Homo sapiens: one gene and its partner. The protein of the gene in region 1 interacts with the protein of each later gene in a biochemical or structural test. Each region holds a gene or a part of one and is shown in the gene's direction. Other genes may lie near its edges.

Region 1 (14,998 bases):
CTAAGGACTGACATTTGCATATCAAAGCTTGCGGGCCTGGCTCTTCAAGCTGCCTTTTCTGTTAGAAAAGAGATGGTTCAGGGGTTGTTTCTTAAAACAGGAAAATTTCCACTGAGAACATTTACCCTTACTATCTGCCTAAAAAGTATTTCTTAATAACTGCTATATCACTATCGTGGGGTTTTTTTCCCATTCTTTCTTTGTTGATGCCAAAGTAAAATTAAGTTAAATATTGTATCCTCTCATAGATCATGAATGCAATGAGGGCAGGCATTATATCTCTTGCTCAACAATTGGGTCCTAGGTGTGTAGGCTTAATGTCTTGTGCAGAGTGGGCATTCAGTAAACAATAATTCAATAATGAATGAATAAATAAGGGAGAATGTGGAGGAGGTTATAGGCTTAGAAAACTTTCTGGGCACTTTCAATGGTTTTAGAGGGTGATGGTATTGGGTGGTTAATAAATCTAAACTCACTTGAAAACATAAGGCTTTCCACTGGTAACAGTCCTTTTATATTTAATCAGTCATCCCAGAGTTGTGGTGAATTGGAAGTCATGGCCAAAGTATTTTACACTCCTCTATTTTCCTACCTCTTGAATCTGAACTTGCCTTATGACATGTTTTCATCAATAAAATGTGGCAGAAGTAATGTGCAGTGGGAGTCCAGGCCTTACGAAGCCTGAAGTTTCCACTTTCACTCTCTTGAAATTCTGCTGCCTTCCTATAAAGGAAGCCCAGGCTAGACAACCAAATGAAGAGGGGTCTTGTGTGTGGGTACTAAATAAGAAAGTGAGGATAGAGAAAAAAATCCAAGGCCAGTTCACCTGTTGGCACTAGAAAAAATGCAAAATATTGATTGGCAAATAGATGCAGGAAGATCGATCGATTGTGTGGTGAGGCCAAAGGGAAGAACTCTTCGAATAGTTATTTCATATTCAACAATAAGTGAGAGTTGGCAGGCAAGCAGAGATTGTGTAGGAGTTTTGAGAAGGAAGGTGTGAACAGCCCTCCAAGTGAGTGGGTGAGTGATTTGACCATGGAAACATAGGAGAGTTGCTCAGCAGCACCAAAGGTCGGCTTAATGTTTATGATCATTAAAATGAGTAATGTTAGCATCCTCGTTTGTTTTTTTCCAGTCAAATTCACTTGCTCAAGAGCAGTTCCAGAGTAGGTGGAGAGCTGGGGTTTTTCCTGGCTTGGAGAAAGGAGGGAGAGGGAGCCAAGGCCGTTGAGAGTATACGCACTAAAATGATGGGACATGAATTTATGCTGGGAAAAGAAGGACGTGTAAGAGCAGAGGGATAGGGAAAGGTGAGGAATCTGGTGAAGGTTAAGTAATTACTAGCACTAGGAGGTATGAGCTGGAATGGAAAGGGGAAGTAAAGTGAGCTGTTTGAAACTGACACTACGGAGGGTACACAGTTATGAGTAAGGTCAAGGGTGTGATCCCAGGAATGTGTGGCTGCGCTAGTGTGGGAAAGATCACAGGAGGTTGGAAGCTGAGAGGCTGTATAGTCATTGCAGGAATCATCCATGTGGATATTGAAATCACCATGAATTATGAATGAAGCCAACTGTATTACTGGTTACTATTTTTACCAGACCACTGTACGCGACTTTAGATCCCTCAACTTCCCATTTAGAGCACTTATCACGGCTTGAAATATTAGAGCGATTATTTGGGTTGGGCGCGGATTATTTGACAGTAATCAGGGTTTACAAGTCTGTTTCGTTTCTTGACTGACATACAATTAATACCCAAAAGGCAGAATGGATAGAAGAATACTATTCTATCTGTCATACAGAGAAACTTCAGATGTAATAAATTATAAAGCCAATTAACCCTACAAACAGGATCCACAGCAGTTTCACATTAATGAAAAAGCAAGACTTCAAGAGGGCGGGAGTTTTTGTCTGCTGATCTTCCCGCATCTAAAATAGTGCCTGACACATATTAGGTGCTTTGCAAATATTGAATGAAAGAATACGCCCCATCAGTATCTCACCGCGCCTGCGCTAGATGCCCTAGGTGGGGCCAGCCTTGACGCGCTGCGCCTGCGCAATGTCTCTTTGCGGGGCGCACCGGCAGGCTCCCAGCCCCGCTTCGTCGCAGCGGCTTGGGCCCTCCGGCCCTCCGTAGCCGCTCGACTGTCGCGCTGCACCAGCTTCCTCCTCGGCGTTCCCACGCCTATTTGGGCGGATTCTTGGCGCCGGAGGAAGAGGCAGGGTCACCCTCTCTCCACGTCAGAGACCTGACTGTGGAGATGGCGGCTCAGAAGATAAACGAGGGGCTGGAACACCTCGCCAAAGCAGAGAAATAGTGAGTGAGAACCTTCCGGGGGCCTGTGTGTAGACGCCGGGTCCGTCTCTCACTGGCGCGGCCTTAGCACCCGGGGGGGGCGGGAGGGAGGGCTCAGGGCTGAGGGGCCTCGGCGCGCTGGTGCCCGCAGGGCTGCCGGGGCTCGGTGTCCTCTGGGTCACACTCCCGGGGTCGGGGTCAGCTCTGCGGCGCCTCGGGAAGCGCCGTGGGTCCACCCCGCCGGAAGTCCGCTCCCCAGAGCCGGTGTGGGCGGGGACTCGGCGCAGTGCTGCGGGGCGAGGGCTTCTCTACTTGGGCGCTCTGCTCCTGAAGATTGTGGTGGGGGCTGTCTGTGCATCGGAGGCTCGTTAGCAGCATCCTTGGCCTCTACCTGCTGGGTGCCGGTCGCATCTCTTCCCCATTTGTGGCAACCCAAAATGTCATCTGGGGAACAACATCGCTCTGTTGAGAACCACCGCCCTAGAAGAGCCCCCTGTGTGGAGGGGACCATAGGTTTACCCCAAAAACTCCTCGGTGAACCTTTGTCATCTGGCATTTTACTGTCCCTGTGGGCAGGGACTGTGCTTCGTTCGTCCTTTGATGTGTATGTCCTGCCACCTCTGGTACAGTACGTAGTAGGCACCCTGCAAATGTTTGTGGGACTGAACTGATAATCCTTAATTCATCCTTTTGGCAGCCTCTTCCCCCCGTTTCATTACTCCAGTGCATTTTTATCTGGCAGTTACAGTTAATAGAAAGTCAGCATTGTGGGCCGGGCGCGGTGGCTCACGTCTGCAATCCCAGCACTTTGGGAGGCCGAGGCGGGCGGATCACAAGGTCAGAAGATCCAGACCATCCTGGCTAACACGGTGAAAACCGTCTCTACTAAAAATACAAAAAATTAGCCGGGCGTGGTGGCGGGCGCCTGTAGTCCCAGCTACTCGGGAGCCTGAGGCAGGAGAATGGCCTGAACCCGGAAGGCAGAGCTTGCAGTGAGCCGAGATCGCGCCACTGCACTCCAGCCTGGGCCACAGAGCGAGACTCCGTCTCAAAAAAAAAAAAAAAAAAGAAAAGAAAAAGTCAGCATTGTGCTCTGTGGTGGGTGCTTCACATACATAATTTCATAAGCTGAGATCTTCACAATAACTTTCCAAATAGAGATTCTAATTTTTCGTAAGAGGAAATGAGACTCAGGGAAGCCTCATAACGACTTGCCCCCAACTGCACAGGTGAAAGATCGCAGAGCCAGTTTTCAAACAGTGGAAAAACTCAAGCTCTATCACATGACTCGAGGCAGTCAGCGTGTAAGGTGCTGGGGCTCTCCTGGTGCAGGAGGTTCCCACAACATTCTGCTTTCTAGTGGGAGCAAACGCAAAATTTGTAATAAGAATAGTGTGTGGAATAGGGACCACAAAAAAGCTGTATTAACTGTGCATAGGTAACCCAGAGGGAGAAGTTTATTCTGCCTGAGAAAATTTGAGGAGGAGATGATTTGTGAGCAGAGCTTGAAAAATACGGAATGTTTTAGACGGAGGGAAAATCTTGTGAAAGAGATTCTGTGCGCAACCTGTAGTATGTATTATACGCGGGCCTGAAAATGTGCTCTGGGAACAGTGAATGTAGTGTAGTCACAGTGCCAGGGGACGAGCTGGAGTGAAAAAGAGTTGGGGCCAGACTGTGAAGGGACAGCTTCTCACATGGCTATTGTAGGCATCCAACCAGTGGACTCGGTTAGATTTGCTTTTGGTGAAAGAAATGTGGCAGCAGGCTGGGCCCTGTCGCTCATGCCTGTAATCCCAGCACTTTGGGAGGCTGAGGCGGGTGGATCACTTGAGGTCAGGAGTTCGAGACCAGCCTGGCCAACATGGTGAAACCCTGTCTCTACTAAAAATACAAAAATTAGCCGGCTGTGGTGGCGCGCACCTGTAATCCCAATTGCTCAGGAGGCTGAGGCAGGAGAATCCCTTGAGCCCTAGAGGCGGAGGTTGCAGTGAGCGGAGATCGCGCCACTGCATTCCAGCCTGGGAGACAGAGCAAGACTCTGTATCAAAAAAATAAATAAATAAAAAGGAAAAGAAAAAGAAATGTGGCAGCAGTGTGGAGAATGGACTTTGACATATTCAGTAAACGAACATTTACAAAGTTGTCTCTGTGTACCTGTACCAGCCACAGAGGATACTGGAGTAACCAAAAGTGGTCCCTTCTTCAAGAGCTTAGAATTCACAGGTGGGCAGACAAGTTAACAGAGGACTAAAAATAGGATGTTCAGTGCTAGAATAGAAGTATTCAGTGTGGTATGGTAGAGATAGGAAGCAAGGAAAAGGTAATATGCTCAGGATGTGGGGAATGGAAGAGGAGGAAAGGTGACTCTCCCATGAAGGTACTGCCAGACATGTTAGTGGGTTGTCGACTTCAGGGGAGAGGTGGTGATGGCCTGAATTCAAATAACAGTACAGGGGTAGGACTGGGTGATGTTTGTCAGTAAGGTTGACATGCTTTAATGAGGTGCCTGCATGTAGAGATGAAGAGTTAACTCCTAGGTTTCTAACTTGGGAGACGAGTGGGAGAGGCCTTCAGCCAAGATAGGGGATATAGATTAATGGATGTGATTGGTGGGTAGGTCTGGGGCAGGGAGGTGGGGCGGGGAGGTGTGGAGTTCAGGCTTGAAGTGTTAGTTTGAAATGCTGCTAGACAGAGTTACTCAGTGGGTGGTAGGAAAAATGGGCCAGGAGCTTAGGAGATATTTGATTTTTCTCCATTTTCTAATGATGACGTAGTTCAATATTGCTGAGTAATTTTGTAAATTGATCCCCACACAGATGGTAATTTTGCTGTTTTCTTTTTTTCTGTGGAAATTGGTCAGTTTCCTTATTGATTCTTTGGAGAAAAAGGTCAAAAGGACTAACAGGTATGGCTGCTAAACCCAAATTAGCTGTATATCTTTCTTCCTTATTAGTGGTGTTCATGTGACTTGGGATGGTTTGCCCAGTTTTAAACTCTCTGGGTCTTTCCGTGTATAGCACATTAGGTGACGGAGTGATTGTATCTTGTTTTTAGTGGGATTAAAAAAATTATGTTAATATACAGAATGTAATGTTTGTTATGGGATAGGAACAGAGGGTTAGCATTTTGCATATTGCATATTTCCTCAATTTTGTAGATTTGAGTAGACACACCACAATTTAAGGATATTATTTTTCTGAACAGTGAAATTCTTGGTAAGCTTGAAAAATTGCTTATTTTAATTTGAATCTTGTAACACTATATACACAAACAAGTTTTAGATGCTAAATATGTTGAATAAATTTAATTGGCAAAAAATGTTACTGTAGCTGGCTGGGTACAGTGGCTCATGCCGGTAATTCTAGCTCTTTGGGAGGCCAAGGTGGGCGGATCACTTGAGGCCAGGAGTTCGAGACCACCTGGCCAACATGGCGAAACCTCTTCTCTACTAAAAATACAAAAATTAGCTGAGTGTGGTGGCACAAGCCTGTAATCCCGGCTACTGAGGAGGCTGAGGCACGAGAGTCACTTGAACCTGGGAGGCGGAAGTTGCAGTGAGCCGAGATAATACCACTGCACTCCAGCCTGGGTGACAGAGCGAGACCCTATCTCAAGAAAAAAAAAGAAGCTATGACTTTGTGGCAGTTCCCATGGCTGTCACATAATGAAGGCTGTACTTCTGAGTGCTCATACAGATGCCTCATCTTTCAGTTAAGATACTCCCCTGAGTCATTTGAAGCAAGCAGTGTTCTGTGCAAGCAGGCCTTCACTAATTGAATGACATTTAGAATTTACGATGGTTTGGGCAATTTCTATGCACACCCAAATTTGACAGTTACTGAATTAGTTTAAACTAAGTCTGAAATTATTTTAAAATAAGAAAATAAATATTGAGGAAAAGGCAAGTAAGTTAAGGATTCAAAATTGATTGTCCTTTGGTTTGGCATCCAAGAAGCCAGTAGTGATCCTAGAAAGCAGTTTCTCTTGGCTTTTGTAATATCCTTCCCTTTCTGATTATCCTTCTTGTTTATGGGTGGCGAGTTTTCACTTTTTTTTTTTTTTTTTTTTTTTTTTTTTGCCTACTTCCTCTGTTGTTTCACTGAATGATTGTATTCCTTAGTCTTTCTGTTCTCTCTCTGCAGTCTCACTAGGGGATCTGATCTCATCTATGCTCTTGACATATGCTTATGATGCCTCCATTTATGTCTCTAGACTCTTGTCTGTGCGTCAGTTTCATGAATCCCTCTGCTGTCGATACTGTGCTTCAGAGGTTCTAAAGCTTTAATGCACCTTTGAGCTCGTTAAACCTCAGAGGTGCTGTAGGCTTGGGATGGGGTCAACAATTTACGATTTTAGTAAGTTCCCAGTTAGTGCTGATGGTGCTGGTCCAGGGACCATGAATTGAGAACCTCTAGGAGGAAAACCACGTACCTGTGACAGTGGGAGTGAAAGAGGTGAGGTTGTGTTTGTTAGGCCTAAGTTTGGATGGAGGCGGGTGACACAGAGTTTGTGCCTGATGGTTTCTCCTTTTTTTTTTTTTTTTTAAAGACCTAGAAGGTCATTACAAGCAGAGATCTGACTTATAAATGTGGTTGGTAACTCCTGTTAACTGTGTTTTTTTCATTCTAGCCTGAAAACTGGTTTTTTAAAATGGAAGCCAGATTATGACAGTGCCGCTTCTGAATATGGAAAAGCAGGTATTTTTGACTATAGTCCAGTTGCTCCAGTATGTAATCTTAAAATAGTCTGATAACTTCATTTCACCATAATACTTACTCATATGCTTTCTATAAGGCTTTAATAGTTAAAAAACAAACAAAACAACTGTGCAAGCCCTTGAGTTTTTTTCCACTTGTTATTTTCAGATGTGTTGAGAGCTGAGTCAGAGTTCCTGGTACCTGCTGTCTATGACAGCAGGGATGGGGCGGGGTTGGTGATACACAGTAGTGGGTTTTTAGCGTTGCTTATATATTCTTTAACTCCAGTTATTTGAATACCATATCCATGAGTTTTGCCATATTTCTCTATTATACTTTCTATTGAATTAGGAGTTTGTTAAATTTTTTGTTAACTTAGCCTCATCTTAACCTGATACGCAAATCATATGTTTGCTTGGTATTTTATGTCTTTTATGAACCTCACTTTGAGTGTATCTGTTCAGTGTTCATGAAGTGTTAAGCTATATACATATTTTAATCAATTTATCTTTATATAAGATATAAACAATCTAAAATATGCAACAGAAAGGGAATTTACTAAAAATGTAGCATTCTGAATTACAGAATGATAGCTTTAAGCATACCTGTGATAATTTGCAGTATAAATATAACAAAATTTTGAAGTACCTTGAACACATTTTCAGTTGTATTTCAGCGATAGCCCTTATCACATTTGTTAGCCTAGCATAGAGATCATCTGGGGCAAGTGCTTTTGGTTAAACAGCAAATGAGTCTTCAGTACTTTTATTTAAATCTGAGTAAATTCTGTTTTTTTGCATCATGCAAATTGTTTATCTTATACTTGAAAATTATTAAAAGTTCAAACTTTGTATGAATTTTGTGGACTACTCATGCAAGGAGGCTTCTGTAGCAGAAGGGAACAACATTTTGCAAGTTTCCTCTGTGAGGGAAATTTAACACAGATTTGTTTTCTGCCCCTCTGAGATCATGAATTACATTCAAAAATAAATGTTTTAGATGAAATTTTCCCCCTGAAGCATCCTTTGTTTATTTTCTTTAAGGGCTTATGGAAAACCTATTTAATCAGAATAAATTTTTTAAAAAGCAACATATGGAAAAGCAGGGAGGGGAATAGCTTCAGTATTTGGTTTTCACATTTTATTAAAGAGAATTTTAAGAGTGTTTTTAACAAATAGCACTTTTCTTAAAGCATTATGCTTTTTGCTTCTTTGTAAGCAACCCTTGATAAGTTTTCCAAAATTTGTAAGATCATATGTTATAAGCACTCCTGTTTTGTTTTGATGATTACACTTTTAAAACAGCTTTCAGTATGCTTTAGCTGTTTGAACAGTGAGACATCTTTTTCATAGATAGTAAACAGTATAAAAGATTGTTTTTTTAAAAAAATGCATTGTTAGACATTTAAAGATTGTGCCAAAAGGAAGGTTTATTATAAAAAACTGTTAAATGTGCTTATTGGCCCTCAGTTTCTACCTAATCGAATGACCTATACCCAAAATACCGTTTAAAGGTAAAACTGGTGAAGTAAGGTGCTGTCTTTTGTGACTGAAGAATCTGCCGGTTACTGGGGAGTATTGGGGAGTGTTGGTGTTAGAAAGACTTCTTGATTTTGAGTGGAAGAAACACTGATTTGTTGCCAGTAGTCAACAATTAAAAAAGAAAAAGTTTTAAAAATACTCGTAAGTTACCAATAATTGGAAAAGTTGTAAGGAAATTGCTTTAGAAAAAAGTAATATTTTATAGTTTTAGGATACTTCCTAAGTATTTGAAGTAAGTATGTTTATAATACTTCATATAAAATGCAGATTTCAGTAATGATTCATTTGAGGTTTTTAATGATGGAAATAGTCAATTTTTTTTTCTATTTCAGCTGTTGCTTTTAAAAATGCCAAACAGTTTGAGCAAGCAAAAGATGCCTGCCTGAGGGAAGCTGTTGCCCATGAAAATAATAGGGCGTATCTTTTTCAACTTTTAAAAAGAAATTAAACAATTAGATGATTTTGACAAGCTGTTTTCTCTTGCTGTAAATTTACTTTACTACCTGTGAAGTAAAATGTTTTTAAATTAGAAAATGATTAGAAAAATTCTGTATTTTTAAACTATGAAGGAGCGTTTATAATGAAGTTTGATTATAAGGTCCACACTGGTTCGCAGAGCTACAATACTTACTTTCTATTGTTTGTGATTTTACTTGATGATGGTTTTACTTGGGATGAAGTAAAGTAAATCTGTAGACATGTGCTGAAGAATGAAGAAGTAGCACAGGTATTGAAAACACGTGAACTACTGTATCAATTTTTTTAAATACAGTTTTCCTTAGGTATTTGAAATAAAAATTATAAGTAGTTTAAAACAGTACATTTTCTTGAGGTGTTTGCAAACTTATCAATAAAAAATGTTTCTCTTATTTGCAAACTGTAGTCATAATAACTTTGTACTTCAGTAAAACTTCAGATTATTGCGTAATAGAAATAGTTTAAAATCTGTGCAGTGTTTTGTTAGTGGTTTTGGGAATTATGTAGTTTTAAACTATATTGACAGGTATTGAATTACTTCTTTTTTACCTGTTTGTAGGATTTGTCTTTTGGAACCAACTGGGTCAGTGATTTAGTTAACTGTCTTTAAATAGTTGATCTATAGAAACTATTGATTTTTTTCTTTTTTCCTTAACTTTGACTTCGTTACTTCCATTCAGTCTTTTTCATGCTGCCAAGTAAGTATTCTTCATGTTTTCATGTATTTGCAAATTATGTTTTAAATGTTGCTGTTTTTCTGTAGGTTGGTAATTTTTTCCCAAATTATAAATTTTGTATTGATTTAAATAATAATCATTTCTCTTTGCTTCAGTTTTTACCTAAACCTTAAAAACCAAGACTTACTCCTAACTGTAAGATGTAAAGAGTTTAAATTAAATTTGCCATAATATTTTATTAGGAGCATTTTGTTCAGTAGCCTATGGGAAAAAAATAAGTTAGGATCTCTTTTTTCCTCTGTTTGATAGTTAATGGTGCCTGTGGAGATGAAGCAGGAAGCTTTCTCTTGCCTTGTGGAGAGTAGTTATTTGTTGGCCGAGGCAGGCGGATCACTTGAGGTCAGGAGTTCAAGACCAGCCTGGCCAACTTGGTGAAAAACCTCGTCTCTACTAAAAATACAAAAATTAACTGGATGTGGTGGCACGTGCCTGTAATCTCAGCTGTTGGGGAGGCTGAGGCAGGAGACTTGCTTGAACCTGGGAGATGGAGGTTGCAGTGAGCTGAGATCGTGCCTCTGCTCTCCAGCCTGGGCGACACAGCAAGGCTCCATCCCAAAAACAAACAAACAAACAAAAAAACTTAGGTTTAGGTTTGTCAGATGGAAATTAATTTAACCTTACTGAGCCTTACTTAATTTTGCATCTGCAAAATAAAATCTCTTTAACTCAAATGTCTGATGTTCTAAGCCATTATTCCCCACAAAAAAAGAATAAAAAATTATATTGTGTGGTAATATAAGCCTGAAGTGATATGTTGTGCATGAGCCCATTGTAATTGAAGTCACTTTCCTTACCAGTAGTTCCTCACCAGAAAGTTTCTTCTACCCCTTATTTCGTTAAGATCTCATCAGAGAAATTATATTCTCTTTGCAGAGCTTATGAGCAAGCTGGAATGATGTTGAAGGTCAGTAATGTTATGTCACAATTGTTGTGTAGGTAAAATGAATTAACTACAAGGTGTTAAACAAGAATTTTTGTTGAAGTTGAAAAGCTTCCTTACTGTAAGGCAAGAGGTGCTAAGTTAAGATTTTCTGTCCACGGTAACGTTAATTGGACCCATAGAATACATTCTGTACGTCTTAAGGAATGTTAAAAGTGAAATTTAAGAGAAAATGTATTGGAGTGAACTGGGAACACTAATGTTCTAAGCTCTATAACCAGGATAGATGTGTATTGCTATAAAAAGAGCTCTATGGGAAGTTTCTCTACTTTTGAGAAGGACATCTAAATGTAGTAAAATTTTATAAATATTAAAAAATTATCATACATGGGTTATAGAAGAGATTTTTACTTATGTGAATAACAGTTGGCAGCAGAAACAACCACAGATTTAAGCTTTTGCTACTTTAATTCATTCTGCATGGAATATTCCAACTAATGTACCTGTGCCACTGTTTGTACTTCTGCTCCTCAAAAGCAGGCCAGGAATTAATGTCCTGCTGTGGTGAGACAGAACATACTACTTTATGATGCTGACTTTCAAAGTATGCCAGCTGGCAGTTGAAATGAAGTATTTGTCTTTCTTTTTTAAAAATGTTTTTTTCTAAAATGGTAAAAGCTACTTTCAAGTATTTATTATAAAGCTTTGTTTTTAAGAACTTTTACCTTAGTAAAGCTTTTGTTTTTAATTTCTATGACTTTTATAATGTGAACTTACTCATTTTTTTAGTGAACACATGCTCATTGTAGACAATAAAAAATACCGAAAAGTTAAAGAATGTTAGTAATAGCTGTTAACATACTTAGTTTAAAAGATTTTATAGTCTTTGACCCAGGAATTTCAATTCTGTGAGTCTATCATCGAGAGAGAGAGATCAAAGATTTATGCATCAGGTTGTTTCTTGAAGAAATGCCAATTATCTAAATTTTGAATAATAGGAAAGTGAGGTTGGATGTAGTGGCTCATGCCTGTAATCCCAGCACTTTGGGAGGCCAACGTGGGTGGATTACCTGAGATCAGGAGTTCGAGACCAGCCTGGCCAACATGGTGAAACCCTGTCTCTTCTAAAAATACAAAAATTAGCTGGGCATGGTGGCGGGCGCCTGTAATCCCAGCTACTTGGGAGGCTGAGGCAGGAGAATTGCTTGAACCCAGGAGGCAGAGTTTGCAGTGAGCCGAGATCGTGCCATTGCACTCCAGCCTGGGCAACAGAGCGAGACTCTGTCTCAAAGTAATAATAATAATAGGAAAGTGTTTAAATAAATTATGATGCTTCCTTATTATAAACTATTATATATCCATTGAAATAAAGCTTTTCTGGCCAAACATGCAACTGAATTGGTATTTGGTGCCGCAAGTTAGGTTATTAACCACAGTTCCTTTGAAACCATAGAGTTTCTCTTACGGCCAAAGAAGCTGGGGATCTGCTCTGGTCTTCTTATGTCTCATTTTCCTCTGAGAATTAGGAAGCTCCCAGGTGGCTGTTACATTCTTAGTGTACTTCATGCCTGTTTAAGAAATGCTCAAACACTCTAATTCTCACAGCCTCAGTTTATATTACAACAGCTGTACTAAGACTTGAATCTTCATCAAAAGTTATTATTCAGGCATCATTTCCATTGCTCAAGTATCTATTTAATTTGAGGGTTGGAAAGGCACTACTTTGAATGAAAGAAAATTAACTTAGTGGATAGGGAAACAGATGAAGGAAAATGCTTTCTGGCATTGTCTTATATTTAAATTAAATGCCTTTGGACACTGTTGGGAGCACAGGACCCCTGAGCTACGTGGTCCACAATTCTGTGGGCTAAAATTTCTACCAATTTGTCATACAAACCTTCACACTGATTCACCAGAAAGGCTTGGGGAGTGCCATTTTGTAGACATATGCACAAGGGAAGCCACAGAAACTTGTTGGATCAACCTTTGGTTCTGTCACTTGATGACTGCTGTGATTTCATATCCTGTTTGCTCCACTGGCACACAGCCATTGAAAATAGGCATATTTATGGTGGAGGGTATAACTTTCAAGTAGGCAGCTCATCATTTTTTATGGAGAAGTATCAATATTGTGGTTGGACCTCTTACTCACAGCCTCACTTGATTTTACGCAAAAACAGGAAGATGTAGTTGCTAATTTTTAAACAACAAATAGGACTCGGATGCCATTTTTACTGCCTTCTAATGTATTTTTTGCTCTATCTACTGGGTAAAACTCATGACGAATAGTTCCTGTGGTTTTTTTATCCTCCCAAATGCTTTTATGTTGTAGATTCACATTATATATGTAATTAGTGGGTAGGTATATTTGGGGAGGAAATACAGTTGACCCTTGAACTACCCAAGGGTTGGGATGCCAACCCCTTGTGCAGTTGAAACTCTACATATAACTTTTTACTCCCCAAAAACTTTACTAATAGCCTGTTTTTGTTTTTTTTTTTTGAGACAGGATCTTGCTCTGTTGCCCAGGCTGGATTGCAGTGGCACAATCATGGCTTACTGCAGCCTCAACCTCCTGGGCTCAGGCGATCCTCCCACCTCAGCCTCCTGAGTAGCTGGGACTATAGGTGCATGTCACCATGCCCTGCTAATTTTTTAATTTTTTTGGTAGAGACTGGTTCTCGCTGTTTTTCCCAGGCTGGGCTCAAACTCCTGGGCTCAAGTGATACTTCTGCCTCAACCTCCCAAAGTGCTGGGATTATAGGCGTGAGCCACTACCCTACTACTGACTGGAAGTCTTATAAATAATATAAACAGTCAGTTAGTACATATGTTGTATGTTGTATGGAATATGTTTTATACTGTATTCTTAGAATAAAGCTAGAGAAAAGAAAATATTAAGAAAATCGTAAGGAAGAGAAAATATATTTAGTGTTCTTTAAGTGGAAGTAGAGCATCATAGGGCTCTTCATCCTCATCATAGTCTTCACGTTTGGGCTGAGGAGGAGGAAGAGGAGGAGGAGGAAGAAGAGGGGTTGGTTTTGCTGTCTCAGGTGGCAGAGGAGCAAGACAGTCTGCGTATAATTGGACCAGCACAGTTTAAATCTCTGCTGTTCAAGGTTCAGTTGTATTCTTTAAAAGCCAAAATGACCCTCAGGACTAATGTGTCTGAGAGAGATTTTGTTAGGTTTACCTCCCCTGTTCATTCAGATATTTTTCAGCAGATATTGTAGACTCGGATTCTTTCATTGACTTTTGGTTTTATAACAAAAAAAGTATTGTTTTTATTTTTTCACTGAGGTTTGGAAATGCATTAGCATTTCATTCTGCTTGAGTGAATGATAGCAGTCTTATTTCATACAGTGTCTTTCAGTCTGTGTTATTGTTAGTTTCCATAGCTAAATAATAAAGTTATGTTTTGGGGTTGGCGAAAATGAGACCAGTTTTGTTAAGGGTATCCTAATGAATTTGTCAACTTAGCAAGGGACTGAATAGGCAGATTTGTAAACCACCCATGAGATGTCAGTGTGGAGCCTACCTTAAGATACAGCAAGTCAACACTAAATAAGTTGCTTATGTAAACTTTATAACTAGCTTTTAAACGGTGTTTTTTTTTAAGTTTATTTTTAAAATGTTTGATTTGGAGATATTAGACATTAGGACTGCATGATCCTGAGATGTGTAGATTAATAGTAAGATACAGAATTTATTAGTCATGGAAGAGGGTTGCAAACTCAGATGAACTCAGGGTGTAGAGGAATAACTAAAATGAATGAGCAGCTGGGACGTGGAGGGCATTTGGAAGTGAAGAGCGGGGAGAAGCGCCAGGAGGTGCATGCTCATGTGGCGGGACAGTGCTGCCCAGCCCCAGCCTGTTGCCATACAGGGATGCAAGCCTGCTGATGCCGTAGCTTTTGATATTTTTTTGAAGAAAGCCATAAAACAATTTTCATGAAAGTATCTAATTTAAAAATACTGCATGGATCAAGCAAAACACACTTGGAAGTGAGATAGAGTCATTGGGCTGCCAGTTTGTGATCCTTGGCATAGGTCTTGTATGTAGTAGGGACTTGGTAAATGTTTAAAGAATAAGAAGTGCTTAGAAAACAGTAAAGAGCAAGGTTTTTGGTTTTTTCTATTTTCATAGATTTCCCAAAGGTCTGTGAAGTGATGATGAACTCTGTGTAGAAATTACCTGGTACCTTTTTGATTGGGTTTAATGAAGCTTGATTGGGAGAGTAATCATGTGAAGCATTTCATTTTAAATATCTTTATTGCTATACAATGTATTTGAGTCATTTACTTTCATGAATTAGGGATAAAATAATTGTATTTCATATCCTTTGCCCACTTTTTGATTGG
Region 2 (17,476 bases), on another chromosome or scaffold:
GTGTAAGAAAGGGGTCCTGCTTAATTCTTTTGCATGTGAATATCAGCTGTCCCAGGCCATTTGTTGAAAAAACAATACCTTCCCCATTAAATGGTCTAGGTACCTCTGTTGAAAATCAATTGGTCATAAATGTAAGGATTTATCTCTGGACTCTATTTTATTCCACTGGTCTATATGTCTATCTTTATACCAGTACCACACTGTCTTTATTTGTAGTAAGTTTTGAAATCAAAAAGTGTGAGTGCCCTTTGTTGTTCTTTTTCAAGATTGATTTGGCTATTTTGGGTCTCAAGCGTTTCCATGTGCTTTTCAGGATCAGCTTTCCAATTTTTGCAAAAACAGCAGTTGGACTTTTGAGAGGGGATATGTTGAATCTGGCGAGTATTGCCATCTTAACAATAAGTCTTCAGTTCCATGAACATGAAATACCTTTCTATGTATTTAGGTTACTAATTTCTTTCAACAATGTTTTGTAGTTTCCTTAGATTTCTTTCTTTTTTTTTTTTCCTGAGACGGAGGACAGAGTCTCACTCTGTTGCCCAGGCTGGAGTGCAGTGGCACGATCAACCTCCACCTCCCACGTTCAAGCTATTCTCGTGCCTCAGCCTCCCAAGTAGCTGGGACTATAAGTGTACACTGCCACGCCCAGCTTATTTTTGTATTTTTTGTAGAGACAGGGTTTTGCCATGTTGGCCAGACTGGTCTCGAACTCCTGACCTCAGGTGATCTGCCTGCCTCAGCCTCCCAAAGTGCTAGGATTACAGGCAGGAACCACTGCACCTGGCCTAGACTTCTTTTGTTGAATTCATTTCTAAGTATTTTATTTTTTGAAGTTATTATAAATGGAATTGTTTCGGCCAGGCGCAGTGGCTCACGCCTATAATCCCAGCACTTATTGGGAGGCTGAGGCGGGCGGATCACGAGGTCAGGAGATCAAGACCATCCTGGCTAACATGGTGAAACCCCGCCTCTACTAAAAATACAAAAAATTAGCCAGGCGTGGTGGCGGGCACCTGTAGTCCCAGCTACTCGGGAGGCCGAGGCAGGAGAATGGCATGAACCTGGGAGGTGGAGCTTGCAGTGAGCTGAGATAGCGCCACTGCACTCCAGCCTGGATGACAGTGCAAGACTCTGTCTCAAAAAATAAATAAAAATAAATAAATAAATAAATAAATAAATAAATGGAATTGTTTCCTTAATTTTATTTTCAATTGTTCATTGCTAGTGTATAGAAATACAATTGATTTGAATGTGTTGATCTTGTACCCTAATAACCTTGCTGAACTCGTTTATTCACCCTAACAGATTTTAGTGGACTCCTTAGGATTTTCTATTTACAAGATCATGTAGTCTACAAATAGAGATTGCTTTACTTTTCCTTTCCAATCTAGATGATTTTATTTATTCTTTTTGCCAAATTGCCCTAGCAAAGATATAAGAAATCCCATTTTGACTTGTACCCTGAACAATTGTTTTGCTCTGAGATGCTGTTAATCTGTAACTTTGCCCCAGCCACTTTGCCCCAACCTTGAGCTCACAAAAACATGTGTTGTATGGAATCCAGGTTTAAGGGATTTAGGGCTCTGCAGGATGTGCCTTGTTAACAAAATGTTTACAAGCAGTATGCTTGGTAAAATTCATCGCCATTCTCTAGTCTCGATAAACCACGGGCACAATGCATTGCGGAAAGCCGCAGGGACCTCTGCCCTGGAAAGCTGGGTATTGTCTAAGGTTTCTCTCCATGTGATAGTCTGAAATATGGCCTCGTGGGTGAGAAAGACCTGACCGTCCCCCAGCCCGACACCCGTAAAGGGTCTCTGCTGAGGTGGATTAGTAAAAGAGGAAAGCCTCTTGCAGTTGAGATAGAGGAAGGCCACTGTCTCCTGCCTGCCCCTGGGAACTGAATGTCTCGGTGTAAAGCCCGATTGTACATTTGTTCAGTTCTGAGATAGGAGAAAAACCACCCTATGGCGGGAGGCGAGACATGTTGGCAGCAATGCTGCTTTGTTATTCTTTACTCCACTGAGATGTTTGGGCGGAGAGAAACATAAATCTGGCCTACGTGCACATCCAGGCATAGTACCTCCCCTTGAACTTAATTATGACATAGATTCTTTAGCTCACATGTTTTTTTTCTGACCTTCTCTCTATTATCACCCTGTTCTCCTACCACATTCCTCTTGCTGAGATAATGAAAATAATAATCAATAAATACGGAGGGAACTCAGAGACTGGTGCCGGTGCAGGTCCTTGGTATGCTGAGCGCCAGTCCCCTGGGCCCGCTTTTCTTTCTCTATACTTTGTGTCTTATTTCTTTTCTCAGTCTCTCGTCCCACCTGATGAGATATACCCACAGGTGTGGAGGGGCAGGCCACCCCTTCACTACAAATATATATATAAACTTATATGATAAACCCAATGGCTAAGGGATAGGGCTTTGCAATAAATATTGGGAAACTTGGATAGCTGTTGGGGGAAAGCAGGTTAGATATTTACCTGAAATCATTCATCAAAATGGTTGCTAGCAGGATTTAAAGAGAATAAAAGAACAAACAAAAATCCAAACAACTTAAAAACTTGAAAAAATCCAAATGAATATTGTTGGACCTGTAAGTTTGGAAGAACTCAAGCTTAAAACAATGGAAAGAATTCAAAGATTTGATTATCTAATTTTATTTATTTATTTAGACAGGGCCTGAGCTCTGTCACTCAGGCTGGAGTGTAGTGGTGTGATAATGGCTCACTGAAGCCAGGACGTCCCGGGCTCAAGCAATCCTCCTGCCTCAGACCTACTCCAACCCCCTCAGTGGTCAGGACTACAGGCGTGCATTAGCACACCTAGCTAATTTAAAAATAATTTTTAAAAAGAGACAGGGTCTTGCTACGTTGTCCAGGCTGGTCTAGAACTCCTGGGCTCACAAGTAATCTTCTTGCCTCGGCCTCCCAAAGTGCTAGGGTTACAGGCATAAGCCATTGCACTCAGCCTACCTAATGTCTTATATCGAAAACATATCCAGGCTGGGAGCAGTGGCTAAAACCTGTAATCCCAACACTTTGGTAGTCTGAGGGGGGTGGATCACCTGAGGTCAGGAGTTTGAGACCAGCCTAACCAACATGGCAAAACCCTGTTTCTACTAAAAATACAAAAATCAGCCGGATGTGGTGGTGCACACTATAGTCCTAGCTACTGGGGAGGTTGAGGCAGGAGAATCGCTTGAACCCGAGAGGTGAAGGTTGCAGTGAGCTGAGATTGTGCCACTGCACTCCAGTCTGGGTGTCAGAGCAAGGCTCTGTCTCAAAAAAAAAATTAAATTAAATTAAAAAAAGAAAACCTGCAGTAAATATGAACAACAAAGTGTTACTATTCTTTTTCTTTTTTTTTTTTTTTTTGAGATGGAGTCTCGCTGTCTCCCAGGCTGGAGTGCAGTGGCACGATCTTGGCTCACTGCAAGCTCCGCCTTCCGGGTTCACACCATTCTCCTGCCTCAGCCTCCTGAGTAGCTGGGACTACAGGCGCCCGCCACCGCGCCCGGCTAATTTTTTCGTATTTTTAGTAGAGACAGGGTTTCACCGTATTAGCCAGGATGGTCTCGATCTCCTGACCTTGTGATCCGCCCACCTACGGCCTCCCAATGTGCTGGGATTACAGGCATAAGCCACCGTGCCCGGCCTTCTTTTTCTTTTTCTTTTGAGACAGGGCCTCATTCTGATGCCCAGGCTGAGGTGCAGTGACATGATCACAGTTTGTTGCAACCTCGACTTCCCAAGCTCAGGTGATCCTCCCACCTCAGTAGGCATGTGCCACCACACCCAGCTAATTTTTGTATTTTTTTTTTTAGAGATAGGGTTTCACCATGTTGGCCAGGCTGATCTCAAACTCCTGGACTCAAGCAATCCTGCCTCCTCAGCCCCTTAAAGTGCTGGGATTACAGGCATGAGTCACTGTGCCTGGCCATGTTACTATTCTTAACATATAAAGCATTTGTATAAATAATAAGAAATTAAGGCTTCAAAGAAAAACAAGCATAGAAAATAGGCAATTCAGAAAATAGACAATTCATTAAAGAAGGAAATACAAATGACTAATAACTGAAAAGAAGTTCAATCTCTCTGGCAATCAAAGAAATGCAAATGAAACAACAAGGAGGCAGAAGCTTTTGCCTTCAGCAAAGAGTTCTAAGATGATAATTCATGCTCATTACTGCTTAGGGTGTATTGAGATAGCTCTCATACTAACCCTATGAGGTAATTTCTTATTAGCAGGCCCATTTTACAGAGGTGGAAACAGACTCAGTAGGGTTCAGTAATTTGCCCATGCTTATACAGTTAGTAAGTGGTGGCACCAGGGCTTAGACCTGGGCATGTGGTTCTGCTATAAAGAGGGCCTGGAAAATAGCTGCAGGAAGGTGAGGTGAAGAACAGAGGGAAATGTAGCTGGAAGAGCAGGACAAATACATGTGAAGTGTCTACATGGAAAAGCAAATGGGCTTAGTGGTACTGAAGAGGGGGCAATGAGTGGAAGCTACACATAGGTGGATGCTTTTCAAGCAAGAACTGTCTCCAATGGACTAGAGAGGCCCAGGAAGGCAGTGAGGACACCCAGCCCTGGGGAGGCAGAGGAAACTGATGCTTTTGGGGTCTTCTTGTCTAACTCTTATGCAGGCTGCTGCAGGGAGTGGGGGGGATCTCATCTTATAGAGGAGGAAACACACCTTTAGATGGCCAAGACCTCAGTATCTGGTGTTTCTGCTCTTTTCTCAACCACAGACAGCTAGCAGACCTGGCTTTTCCTTCTAGGGCCAGGCAACGTGGGGTGGGAGCCCTGGCTGGTTTCGTTCCCCTCCTATAGCCAGCCACAGTCCAGAGCCAGCAGGAAGCTTGAGCTTGCCAATCTGTGAGGGCCAAGGCAGGAGGAAAGAGAGCCAGAGGGCAGGTGAGGCAGAGGAGCCATCTGAGTGCTCTCCACCTTTTCCCCTTTCCTGGTGCTTTGCTCCTCCTTGGCGGAGGAGGAGGGAGGGAGGAGGTAGGAGCAGTAACGTTGGAGAACAGGCAAACAGATGAAACAGACCCGCTGAAGGAGTGACACATTTATGTTAGTTGAAGTTTAGTGATGATATCGTCACTTGCAAAGTCCTTGAAGAATTCACTCTTAAAGTGGGAGGTTCATCCTGACTCTTGTAACCTTGGTTGCCTCAATCTTCGTCTGTAAAATGGGTATGAGAACACTTCCTTCTTTATTGACTTTAAATGGATCTAGTGCTTGGCTGACCAACAAGCTGGTGTGAGAGCAGAGTACCACAGCCAGTAGAGCCACTCAGTCTCTACAATTTTCCGGTTGGAGACTTGGGGAAAATCACCCAAGCTCTTCCTGCTTCTGTTTCCTCATCAGTGAAACCAAGGGTAGCACTTGCTTTAAATGGTTATCTTCAGGGTTAAACATGACTATGTGTGTGTGTGTGTGTGTGTGTGTAAGTATTATATGTATATACTTTTTCTTTAGTATACAGACTTATAGCCAAGAGTGATAATATATATAAAGTAATGGTAGAACCAGGACTCCAAAGCCCACAGATTTAATAATTATACTTTAGATGTCTCAAAAACCATAATGTATATAAAACAAACACATACAGTATAAAGACTAGAAAGAAACACAACAAATTATTAACAGTGTTTATTTATGGATGGTTGCGTTATGATTTATTTCCATTTTTTCTTTTTTTGAGAGAGAGTCTCACTCTGTTGCACAGGCTGGAGTGCAGTGGTGCGATGTTGGCTAACTGCAACCTCTGTCTCCCAGGTTCAAGTGATTCTTGTGCCTCAGCCTCCTGAGTAGCTGGGATTACAGGTGTGCCCCACCATGCCCTGCTAATTTTCATAGTTTCAGAAGAGACGGGGTTTCACTATGTTGGTCAGGCAGGTCTGGAACTCCTGACCTCAAGTGATCCATCCGCCTCGGCCTCCCAAAGTGCTGGGATTACAGGCATGAGCCACCAGGCCTGGCCCCATTTTTTATTTTTTTGAGACAAAGTCTCATTCTGTCGCCCAGGCTGGAGTGTAGCAGCACAATCTTGGCTCACTGCAACCTCTGCCTCCCAGGTTCAAGTGATCCTTGTGCCTCAGCCTCCCAAGTAGCTGGGACTACAGGTGCCCACCACCACGCCAGGGGAATTTTTTGTCTTTGTAGTAGAGGTGGGGTTTCACCATGTTGCCCAGGCTGGTCTTGAACTCCTGGCTTCAAGTGATCCACCAGCCTGGGCCTCCTAAAGTGCTGGGATTACAGGTGTGAGCCACTCCGCCTGGCTTGAGGTAAGAATCATTATCCCATTATCCAAATGGAGAAATAAGGCCAAGAGAGGTTAGAGAGTTGGCTTAAACTTCAGGTTTCATAGCTACTAAGAGGCAGATGGCCAATATCTGTAGGCAGATCTGGCTGTCTCTAAAGCTAGGTGCTATCGTCAGGGTTGCTGGACCATGGGGCTGGTGCCTAGGACTTCCCCACTCCAGTCTTCTGATGGAAGAGTTAAGGTGGGAGGCTGTGAGGACTGGGCCTGTGCTGGGTGTGCTATCATGGGTCTCCTCTGCCTACTCTACTGGTTTCCTAGGTTCATATTCCCAGTAGAGGACATGGCCTGGAAGGTGGACAGTTGAGGGGTACTGTGGAGTCTCCCTAAGAAGAAATACATGTTTCTCCTGTTGGGTATCCTATAGAGCACTGGTTCCCCACCTTTTTGACACCAGGGACCAAAATGTAAGTTTCCACAGACTGAGGGTGGCAGGGATGGTTTCAGGATGATTCAAGTGCATTACATTTACTGTGCACTTTATTTCTCTTATCATTACATTGTAATATATAATGAAGCAATTATATGACTCACCATAATGTAGAATCAGTGGGAGCCCTGACCTTGTTTTCCTGCAACCAGATGGTCCCATCTGGGGATGGGAGACAGTGACAGATCATCAGGCATTAGATTCTCATAAGGAGTATGCAACCTAGATCCCTCGCATGCACAGTTCACAATAGGGTTTGTGCTCCTAGGAGAATTTAATGCCACAGCTGATCTGACAGGAGGTGGAGCTCAGGCGGTAATGCGATAGGAAGCGGCTGTAAATACAGATGAAGTTTCACCAGCTAGCCCCTACCACCACTCACCTCCTACTGTGCAGCCCAGTTCCTAACAGGACATGGAGGGTTACCAGTCTGTGGCCCAAGGGTTGGGGACCCCTGCTATAGAGGAACTAAAAATAATAGCATAACTACACAAGATTGAGGGATGGAAGTGGGTGTGAGCCAGCTAAATCATTATCTATCATAGGAGGAAGGCAACAGACAGTGGCCAGTCCTGATAAATGCAGATGTAGCTATGTGAGCATCTTAATGTAGTGATGTGGAGGTAACCATCAGACCTGAAAACACCAGTGGCTTTAAGCAGCATCCCTGGATTGAAGGATGGAGAGGGAGTTCTTGCTTTTCATTGCAAGCCATTCTGTCCTATTTGATTTTTTTAAAAAAGCTGTGTGTATTATTTTTAAATTATTATTTTAAAAGTACAGGCTCTGAAAGTTAAAAAAAAAAAAAACGCTCTGGGGGCATCTAGTGGATTCACAACCCTCCCCCATCTGAGCTGACATTTTATCTTCTGGAAAATAGGGATAAAAGCCATACTCACCCCACAGAGTTGCTCTGAGGATAAAATGAGGTAATGCATATAAAAGCGCACTGACCAGAGTTGGCTGAAATTCAGCATCTATAATTACTAAACATCGTTATTATCAATAATAAACCAAGTATACGTTAATACTTAGGCCCTGGCACACAGTAGGCACTTAATAATGGGTGGAAGTAGTTATTTAACCCCCCACCAGGGCCTGTAATTTCCCCCAACCCGTGACACACTGGCCCCAAGGCTCCGAGTGAACACTTAAATATTGATGTGGTTACTCATTTATTCATCACTCGGCTCTCCGCCGCAGAGTCTGAGGAGGGTGAGCCCCGCTCTCGGGCCTCCCGCGCCGCCGCATGGCCGCATCCCGGCCCCCTGCGCCGGGAGAGATTGGAGGCGGCGGCAGCTCACCCGCTTCCAGGTCGCCGATGCGGGACCGTCACGTGGCGGGGCGGCAATCGCTCCAGTTTCACTCCGGCATTTTCCCCCGCAGGGGCGGACTGGAGGAGGGGAGAGCGCGGCCCGGGGTCAGGGGAGCGGCGGGGGTCCCCATCACCCCAAGTCCGCGCCAAGAGGCTGGCCATCCCAGGAACTGCGGGCCGGGACCCTTTTACGGAGAGGGCTTTCCGGAGCAGGGACTTTTAGAAGGAAGACGTGGGATTGGCCTGGAGGCGCAGAGCGGGTTTTTCGTACCTGGCCGCGGGTGTAGGGCTCCCCACAAGCGAGGCCGGGTTGCTTCGGGCGCCCCCAGCCAGGGGCGGGGCCACCGCGGGAACTCCGCCCACCCTCTGCAGAGGCCGCGCACCGCCCCTTCCCGCTCCGGGCTGGTCTGCGGCTGCCGGGGCGCGAGCTGCGTGCCCGCATCCCTGTCGCACCGCCTCGCCGGTTGGGGCGGCGGGCGCGGGGCGGGGCAGGGGGCGGGGCGCTGACGTCGCGGCGCGGCCCGCGGCCAGCGGCCCGGTGAGGCGGGGAGGCGGCGGCCGGTCGGCCCGGCCCAGCCCAGCCCGCAGCTGCGGCGGCGCTCAGAGTTGGTTCCTGACCGCCTTCTGCCGCGGCCGGGTTTGTCACCAGGTCCTGGGGTCTGCACCGGCTCGGCCAGACCTCGCCCCCCGCTTCTCCGCCATGGCCCTGGTGCGGGGCGCGGAGCCGGCGGCGGGGCCTTCCCGCTGGCTGCCCACGCACGTCCAGGTGACGGTGCTGCGGGCCCGCGGGCTGCGGGGCAAGAGCTCGGGAGCGGGCAGCACCAGCGACGCGTACACGGTGATCCAGGTGGGCCGCGAGAAGTACAGTACGTCGGTGGTGGAGAAGACGCACGGCTGCCCCGAGTGGCGTGAGGAGTGCTCCTTCGAGCTGCCGCCGGGGGCCCTGGATGGCCTGCTGCGGGCGCAGGAGGCCGACGCGGGCCCGGCGCCCTGGGCCGCGAGCTCCGCCGCCGCCTGCGAGCTGGTGCTCACCACCATGCACCGCTCGCTCATCGGCGTCGACAAGTTCCTGGGCCAGGCCACGGTGGCGCTGGACGAGGTCTTCGGCGCAGGCCGCGCCCAGCACACGCAGTGAGTAGGGGGCGCGGGGGCACAGAAACGGCTAAAGGCCTAACAGGGCGGGGCTGGTGGGGGATCAGGACCCCGAACTTCAGCCGGGCCAGTGAGCCCTTGCCTCGTGCTTAAGGGCGTAAACCGACAGAAACGTTGGTTCTTCGCATTTCGGGGTCGTCTTCAAGCTTCCCAAACGTGCGCTGTGTGGGGCTCAGCCACTGGTGGTCCCTGGGAGGCCTGGGGGAGGTTTAAGTGGTGGCGAACGTTAGGAGTAGATTGTCAAGTAAAGTTAGGAATGAGATTCAGAGGCTTTGGGGCTATGGAAACCTCAAGAAGGGAAATCTTGGGGCCGTTCTTAGAACCTCCGGGCCTGCCTCCCTTTCCTCAAAGGGGAGGGGAACTGCGGGCGCCTGTCCGGCAGGGGAGTGGAGAGGCGCAGCCTTGCCCTACGGGGGAAGGAAAGCCAGGTGTCTTCCTCCAGGGCGAGGTTGAATGTTGATTACCCCGCTAAACGTAGAAGCTGGCTGCAGGGGGCATCTGCCTCTTGCTCTCAAGATGCCCTCCACTATCTAGAGATGTCACCCCCCCACCCCCATCCTGTCCCTCTGTGTCCTGTGTCCCTGGTCTGAGGATAGGAGGAGCTTCTAAGTTAAGGAAGGAAACACTTGAGTCAGCCTTCCAGTGGCCTGCCTGCCTGCCCTGCCCTGCCTGAGGTAGAGGCAGCGGCATGGTTAATGAACAGCAGGAGATTATCTCCCGGTCACTTCCACCTCAGTGGGCCAGGGTTTTTTTAAATCATTTATTTTGGCAGCATTTAACCTTGCCTGTGTTAAGATCAAGGCTTCAGCCTTGGAGCCCCATTTCCTGTTTTGGGCTTGGGCAGGAGCTGGAAGCCAGTCCCCGGGGCTGACAGCCTGCTGTGGATCACTCAAGTGGTTAACTTGGGAGTGATCTGGGTAGGAGGGTAAGGGGATTGGGGCAGGACTGTGCCTTAGGTCAGGAGAGGTGCCGGAAAGGTTTGCCCCAGTGGAATGGCATCCACTGAGTGAATAAATCCAGGAAGGCTTGCTGGAGGAGGGGGATGAGCCTGGTGCAAACCCAAATGAAAGCAGGATTTAGGTAAAAAGGATCTGACCTTGAATGTTTTCTGAAACATGGGTGTGGAATGACTTTCCTGGCTGGCTCTCTGTGGTCTGGGATGGGGAGGGCGTTAGTGCAGGTTCCAGGCATGGCTGTGACCTGACTCCATTTCCCCATCCCCTGGCCTGCTCCCCGCCTTCCTTCATGACTTGCTGTTTGGTGGCAGGGTGTGGGATCATGTGGTATATAGCTTGGACCTTGTTTTTTTCCTCCTTTCTGTCCTCTCCCTCCTTCCTGGTTCCTGGAGCCCAAGGGGGTGGGTATATGGGGCGAAAAGCTCTCTCCTGGATCTCTTAGCCCATTCTTTTTCAGAAGAGGTGCCTATCCCCCAAATCATTCCACCCCTTCCCCCAGTCCTTCACCCTCCACCAATCAGCTACTCTGACCAGACTGTTAGATGACACATCTGTTCAGGGGGTGCTGGGGGAACAGGAGGAGGCAGACCAAAAAAAGGCTCCAGGCCTGCAGGGAGCAGCTTCTTTGATTGTTTTTTCCAGTTCCTGCCCTTGCTTTCCTCTTGGCCTCTGGATCTTCCTTAGCTGAGCTGGCCAAGCTTGTAGGTCCAGGTGGACCCATTTTCAGCCAAGAACAGCCTGTCTTGGAGAATTTGACTTACCACCCCTTGATCTGAATGGGAACCTTAATTTATTTTATAGAAATCATCTTTTCCACCAGGATCTTTCCACACCCACCTGGCTGTTTTCTCTGATGCAACAACCTGGTTTATTTATAGAACCGGGGGGGGAACAGGAGTGGGGAGGGTCACTTAGGATGGGCAGAGGAAAGTCTGTGAAGTTGGCCTGGTGCTCTAGTTTACTGGACCTAACAGCATGCCCACTGACAGAGGGGGAGGGCTGTCACCCCCGCTGTGGTCCCCACCTCTGGCTGTAGTGGTCATTCCTGGTGGTATTTCCTGGAGCACCCTGGTGTGGGCTACCAAGACTGAGTCTGAACGCTGCCTGGTAGGGAGAGGGCAAGGCAGAGAAGACCAGGGTGTACCCTCCTCAGCTTTGGATAATGGTGGAAATGAAAAGTATCCATTCTTTAACTCCAGGAGTTGGCTGTGGTGGTCTCAGGTAGGGCAGGTGGTGGCCCTTTGCCAAGAGAGGACCTGACTGGGGAAGGTACCCTTATGGTTAGGAAGGGGCTACAGAGTGGCACTGGACAGATCCCAGTCCCAAAACTGCCACCTGTGGCAAGTCATATAAACTCTTGGTGCCTCAGTTTTCACGTCTGTAAAATGGAGATAATTTATACCTTCATATGGTTGATGTGAGGGATGAAATGAAAATGCAGCTTAAGCACCTAGTACAGTCCCTGTACATGGTAGGTGGTCAGTGCAGAGCAGTGATGGTGAAGGGAGATTTTAGTAACAATGTCTGGAAGAGCTTCTTATGGGATGGGGGAGACAGTCTAGAACTTAGAGCCTAGGAAAGCCTTAGGACCATGGGTGACGGAGTACACAGAAGAGTACGAGAGTTCCCAACAAAATGAGCTGGCCCTTTGCAGCTCTCTGTATTCTATTTGCTGCAAGAGGCCCAAGAAATAGGGCTGGGCTTGAGAGGCCTCTGCAGTCCTGAAACCAGGCTCAGATAAGCCCGCAGCTCTGCAGCTCTCCTCCCTGGCAGCCCTGCCTGGAGCTGCCCCTGCCCTGTTGGGAAGGAAGGATGGCCCAGGGCTTAAAAACCTGGAGACTGGGATTTCACTCCCCGTTCTGTGACTTACCAGCAGACAGGTTACTTATCCCACTTCCTCACTTTGAAAAAGGTCATGATAATAATCATAGAGTTGTACAGATTAGATAAGACACCATCTGTAAAAGCCTTAATGTAGTTCTGGATACATAGAAGCTCTCAAAATATTAGCGTGGTGGTGACTCTGGGGCCCCATTTTGTGTGATGGTGGTGGCTGGGGTTGTAGGTGCTTCAGCAGCCTCCGAAGGTCTTGTGTGAGTGGGGCAGTCTTTGAAATGAGGAATTTCACCAGAGGCTTCCAAATAATTGAAGAGGATATTCTCAAAACAAAATGTAATGGTAGTACACAAGGAAACTAATGATCTCCCCACCCTCAGTAGAACTGTCCATGGATCGTCATGTTCCTGTTGGTCTGGAAATCCTGGATGCTTCTCTGCGATTTATTTTCTGGTTTTTATCTTCAACATCCTTTTTTTTTTCTTTTTTGAGACAGTGTCTCACTCTGTTGCCCAAGTTGGAGTGCAGTGGCAGAATCTGGGCTCACTTGCAATCTCTCCCTCCCAGGTTCAAGCGATTCTCCTGCCTCAGTCCCCTGAGTAGCTGGGATTACAGGCATGTGCCACCACACCCAGCTAATTTTTGTATTTTTAGTAGAGACTGGGTTTTGCCATGTTGGCCAGGCTGTTCTCAAACTCCTGACCTCAGGTGATCCACCTGTCTTGGCCTCCCAAAGTGCTGGGATTACAGGCATGAGCCACCACGCCTGGCCCAACGTCCTTCTTAGCACTCCCCAGTGGGTGTCCTGTGTTTGCCTCCCTAACTCCCAAGACAGGGATGGGATGTGGTGGTTAGTTAGTTTTCCTTGTTCCCTGTGGGGTCAGATGGGTCATTTGGACCTTTTTGGTCTTTATGCGATTGGTGTGGATCACACCCCCAGGGAATGGACCTGGATATATCAGAAGAGGGAAGGAAGGAAGCAGCAGCAAAGGTTTTGGAGTAAGAAGACAGGGCATCTGCCACAAGGCCATTTTGGTTGGGGAGACCTGGTCTTTGCCCCCTGGAATGCTGGTCTTTGTGTGTTTTAGGAGAGGAGGAGAGAGCACAACTGTGTTATATGGAGCCCCTGTCCACCTTCTCCCTCATCCTGATAAGGGTGAAATGGTCCCTGCGGTAAGGCCTGGAGTGTGGCAGACAGGATCGTCATCCTGGGCCTGTTGGATCAATGGTTAGAAGCTGGCCTCTTGGGAAAGCAAAGGCTGTGGGTTCAGCTTGGGTTGGGATCAGTTTGTCTTTTTTCATCACAAAGACTAAAACTGTTGTGACCATGAATTGTGGCCTGCAAGAGGCTCCGTTCAGCCCCTGCTTAGACTGTGCCACTTGGCAAGGGAGCTCGGAGAGCTGAGGCTGTGAAAGATGTAGGTCTGAGATGAGAGCCTTCTGCCTGGCTGGTCATGGTGTTCTGAGACCTCCTTAGGTGGGTGGGTTTGGGGGCACTGGGAGGCACCTGAGGGGACATGCATCCCATTAGCCTAAGGCTGGGATGGTCTTTGAGGGCTTCCATCTATCCCGTAGCCCACAGACAGCCTGGGCAGACAGTTGGTGGGCAGATGGTGCGTGACCCCACAGCCTTCTCTCTGTTGGCTTCTGGGTGTGACTCTGCCCCTCGGGAAACAGCTGTGGTCACTTGAGCCCCTGGCCTTGGCTCCTGCTCGGCCCCAGAGCTGGCATGGGAGGCCTGTGGCACTGCTGGGGAGGTCTACTCTGGCTGCAGAGGAAGGGTGTGGCTGCACTCAGAAGCCAGTCGTTGGTATGCCGAGGCTCCACGGCCCTTAGTTATGGGGTGGTTTTTATTTGGGGTTGCTTGAGCAGCAGCGTCTTGGGGTGTGGGGCGGGGTAGGAAGTGTGACTCCTCAGTCAGGCTGGGCAGCTCCTCCTCTCTGGCCTGGCAGCTTCCCCTGCCCTCCCCATCTGCCCCTGGCCCTGAGCCCTGGCTGGGACCAGGGAGTTTCAAGGGGCCTGTGGTCAGCCCCATCTCTGCCCCACCTGTCTCTCCTTGTAGGCAGCTGGCTGCAAGGCACAGCTCAGCAGAGCCACATCCCGGTGACCTTGAGGGCTGTCCTTCTCTGCTGGGAGCTGCCCGCCCCACTTGTCACTGCTGCCACCTCAGTGCTGTGACGCTCTTGTCTAAACCACTGGCCTGGCCTTGTCCAGATGTTCTCCTGCCCTTCTCACCCTACGCAGGGACAGATGATGAATACAAGAACAGAAGCTGTTGTGGCTCTGCTCCAGGGGAAGCAGTCCTCTTTTTCTTTCCTTTGCAAAATAGTGTAGCCATGAAGCAGTTTTGTTCTTCCCCACAGCCAAGTAATAAAAATGAGTCCACATGTGAGTCTGCTGTGCACCTGGCAGTCCCTTCAGGGAAGAGTCTGATCACAGTGCCCTTACTGAGCTGGCCTGAGGTTATTTCTACCTTGGGAACAATGGTGGCCAGAGAGGAGAGGGACTTGGCTGGCCACATGAGGCCTCTGTATGGAGCTGGGCCCCGGCCTCTCAGGAGCAGTAAGTGGGGCCTCCCAAAACGGGGCTCCCAGGGGCAGCCAGCACCTCCGAGAAGCTGCAGGGTGGGGAGGGGGTATCACAGGCCACTGTGACCTTTGGTTCACCTGGTAGTGGAGAAGGGAGCACAGCCCTTACTCATGGGACTCCAGCATGGGAGCTGGAAGAGAGCTCAGACAAGGAAACTGGGGTTTGCAGAGGGAGAGCTGCACACTCTCACTACCCAGCACTTAGTGGAGGGTGTGCTCTGTGTGGTTTCCATTAGACCCGGGCAGCCCACAGAGCTGTAGGATTTGGGGTAAAGAAGAGGTGGCATTTGGAGCCCTGTGTGCACCCCGGAGTTTCTGTGGAAGTGCCTGCCAGGTTTTAGTGAGATGGGGACATTGGGCTTCTCTGCTGACCTGGAAGGGTAGTCCAATCCAAAGGCAGTTCTAGAGGCCTGAAAGGCCAAGAGTGGGCCACTGGTGGGGGAGAGATTCCAAAGGGGGGGAAGCCTGGATATCTCCCTACATTTGGAGGAAGCCCTATAGCCAAGTGCTGTGTTTTGGGGCCTAGACAGGGAGCCCTGGAGATGTTCGGAGCAGACAGAGCCACTGGCGCTGGCTGTGGTCTCCTCCTCTGTGAGGAGGGGACATACACCAGAGACCTGTCGGCCATCATGGAACCCATCTGCCTCCCCAGCCTTCTCTGAATCCCCACATCTGGAGCATGTGGCACCTGTTTTGGTGCATTATTTTCATTGCCTCGTTGGTCTAGTGCATTGCTGATGAAGGCCTATCTGGGTGCTGGCACTGTCTTAAGGTCTGGACTTCCATTTGTCCACAGCAAGCCCTTGAGGTGTAGGTGCTGTTTAACAGCTGAGGAAACCTTGGCACGGAGAGGTAAAGTGACTTTGCTTTTTCTTTCTTTTTTTTGAGGGGGTGGGGTCAGGGTCTGGCTCCATCACTGAGGCTGGCATGCAGTGGTGCCATCATAGCTCACTGCAGCCATGAACTCTCAAGTGATCCTCTTGCCTCAGCTTCCCAAAGTGCTGAGATTATAGGCATGAGTCACTGGACTTGACCACAGCACATGGCACAAAGTCAGGATGTGAACCCAGGCAGTCTGGCTTCCCAGTCTATGCTCTTGGCCACCACACCACACTGCCCACCTCAGTCTTCCCCCATGTCTTCCATGACCCTGCTCTGCACAGGGCCAGGTGCTCAGCTGCTGCCTGCCAAGGCTTCCTCTCTTCTCCTTGACATGGATCTCGGGGGTTAATCTGGTGCTCTGTAGGCATGACCTGCTTCTCCTGGGTGAGTCCTTGGTTTATTGGGATAAGCACATTTGGTCTGCAGCTCTAGCCTTATGTCTGTCCCAGAGGCTGGGGGATGTTGTCTCATACTTTGGGAGGGAGTCACTGCCACCAGATACCTCTCGGGAGTGGAGTGAGGGCTGGGTGTGGTGGCTCATGCCTGTAATCCCAGCACTTTGGGAGGCCGCGTCAGGAGGATCACTGGAGGCCAAGAGTTCAAGAGCAACCTAGGCAACATAGCAAGACTCCATTTCTACAAAAATACAAAAAATTAGCTGGGCATGGTGGTGCACACCAGTAGTCCCAGCTACTCAGGAGGCTGAGGTGGGAGGATCACTTGAGCCCGGGAGTTCAAGGCTGCGATTAGCAATGATTGCCCCACTGCACTCCAGCCTGGGTGACAGAGCAAGATCCTGTCTCAAAAAATAAAAATAAAAAAAGGAGTGGAGTGAGGCCTGAGAAGGTCAGCCTCACTTTCCACCAGGGCACTTTCCACCCTGGGGAGATTTGCTCCTTTCAAGCAGGGCTTGGGGGCATCAGCACATACCAGACTCCGTAATCCTTCCCAAGACGTCACATGCTGGTTTTACTGTGACAGAACACTCCAAGCCATCCTGTTCTTCCTCCTGCAGCAATACAGTCATTTGCTATTTTTTCCCTTCTGTTTCACAACATCCAGGAAGCAATTACTGGACAACCATTGTAACCACTGTGCCTAGGTCAGTGCTGTGGGGGAAACCAGGGAAATAAAGTGGATAGCCCTTTCTCCAGAAGGGCTAAAATATGTTTGAGATAAGCCTAACGCAGCAAGGACAATTCCTCTACAAAGCAGCATATAAAAAGCGTGAGAGAATGAGGGGGTCAGGAGAAGAGGGAGCTCACCAGTTGGAGTGATCAGGGTGGGCTTCTTGGGAGAGGTGAGGCCTTGAATAACAGGTGAGACCTGATTAGAGGCAGGGTGAGTTGGAGGCAGGGAAACTGTGAGTGTGGTGGGACTGGGCCAGGAGAGGGAGTGAGGGGAGCCAAGCTTAGTTCCCTGTGTGCCACTCTCAGCAAAACAGCAGGACTTTCTTTACTTCCTATTTAGTTTTGTTTTGTTTTGTTTTGTTTTTTGAGACAGAGTCTTGCTGTGTTGCCCAGGCTGGAGTGCAATGGTGTGATCTTGGCTCACTACAGCCTCCGCCTCCCAGGTTCAAGTGATTCTCCTGCCTCAGCCTACCGAGCAGCTGGGACTACAGGTGCGTGCCACCACGCCCAGCTAATTTTTGTATTTTTAGTAGAGACCATGTTGGCCAGGCTGGTCTCGAACTCCTGACCTCAAGTGATCTGCCTGCCTCAGCCTCCCAAAGTGCTGGGATTACAGGTGTGAGCCACCACACCTGGCCCCTATTTACTTTTGAGTAGTTCACCTGGTCCAAATTCTAAAGGTACAGAAGGGCACATAATGAAAAAAATTTCCCTTGACCCACCTTAAGTCACCTAGCTCCTCTCTTCAGAGACATCCAACATTACCAGTTCTTGTGTAACCTTCCAAAGGTGTTTTCTGCATTTAAAGGCAAATGCGTTGTGTTTTTTCTTCCCTCCCTCCTT

Evidence for each region.
Region 2: the proteins of NAPG (region 1) and RAB11FIP5 form a complex in vitro, tested with the Homo sapiens proteins (one study listed by BioGRID).

The regions. Positions count from the first base shown.
Region 1 is NC_000018.10:10,523,837-10,538,834, forward strand, and holds the start of NAPG (gamma-soluble NSF attachment protein), read left to right. Parts: upstream 1-2,190; 5' UTR 2,191-2,266; coding exon 2,267-2,322; intron 2,323-2,610; exon of another isoform or gene 2,611-2,738; coding exon of another isoform or gene 2,739-2,929; intron 2,930-5,164; coding exon of another isoform or gene 5,165-5,209; intron 5,210-6,933; coding exon 6,934-7,001; intron 7,002-8,874; coding exon 8,875-8,959; intron 8,960-9,685; exon of another isoform or gene 9,686-9,699; coding exon 9,700-9,717; intron 9,718-10,629; coding exon 10,630-10,660; intron 10,661-14,998. UniProt on the Homo sapiens protein: Required for vesicular transport between the endoplasmic reticulum and the Golgi apparatus.
Region 2 is NC_000002.12:73,104,091-73,121,566, reverse strand, and holds the start of RAB11FIP5 (rab11 family-interacting protein 5), read left to right. Parts: upstream 1-8,618; 5' UTR 8,619-8,789; coding exon 8,790-9,220; intron 9,221-17,476. UniProt on the Homo sapiens protein: Rab effector involved in protein trafficking from apical recycling endosomes to the apical plasma membrane. Involved in insulin granule exocytosis. May regulate V-ATPase intracellular transport in response to extracellular acidosis.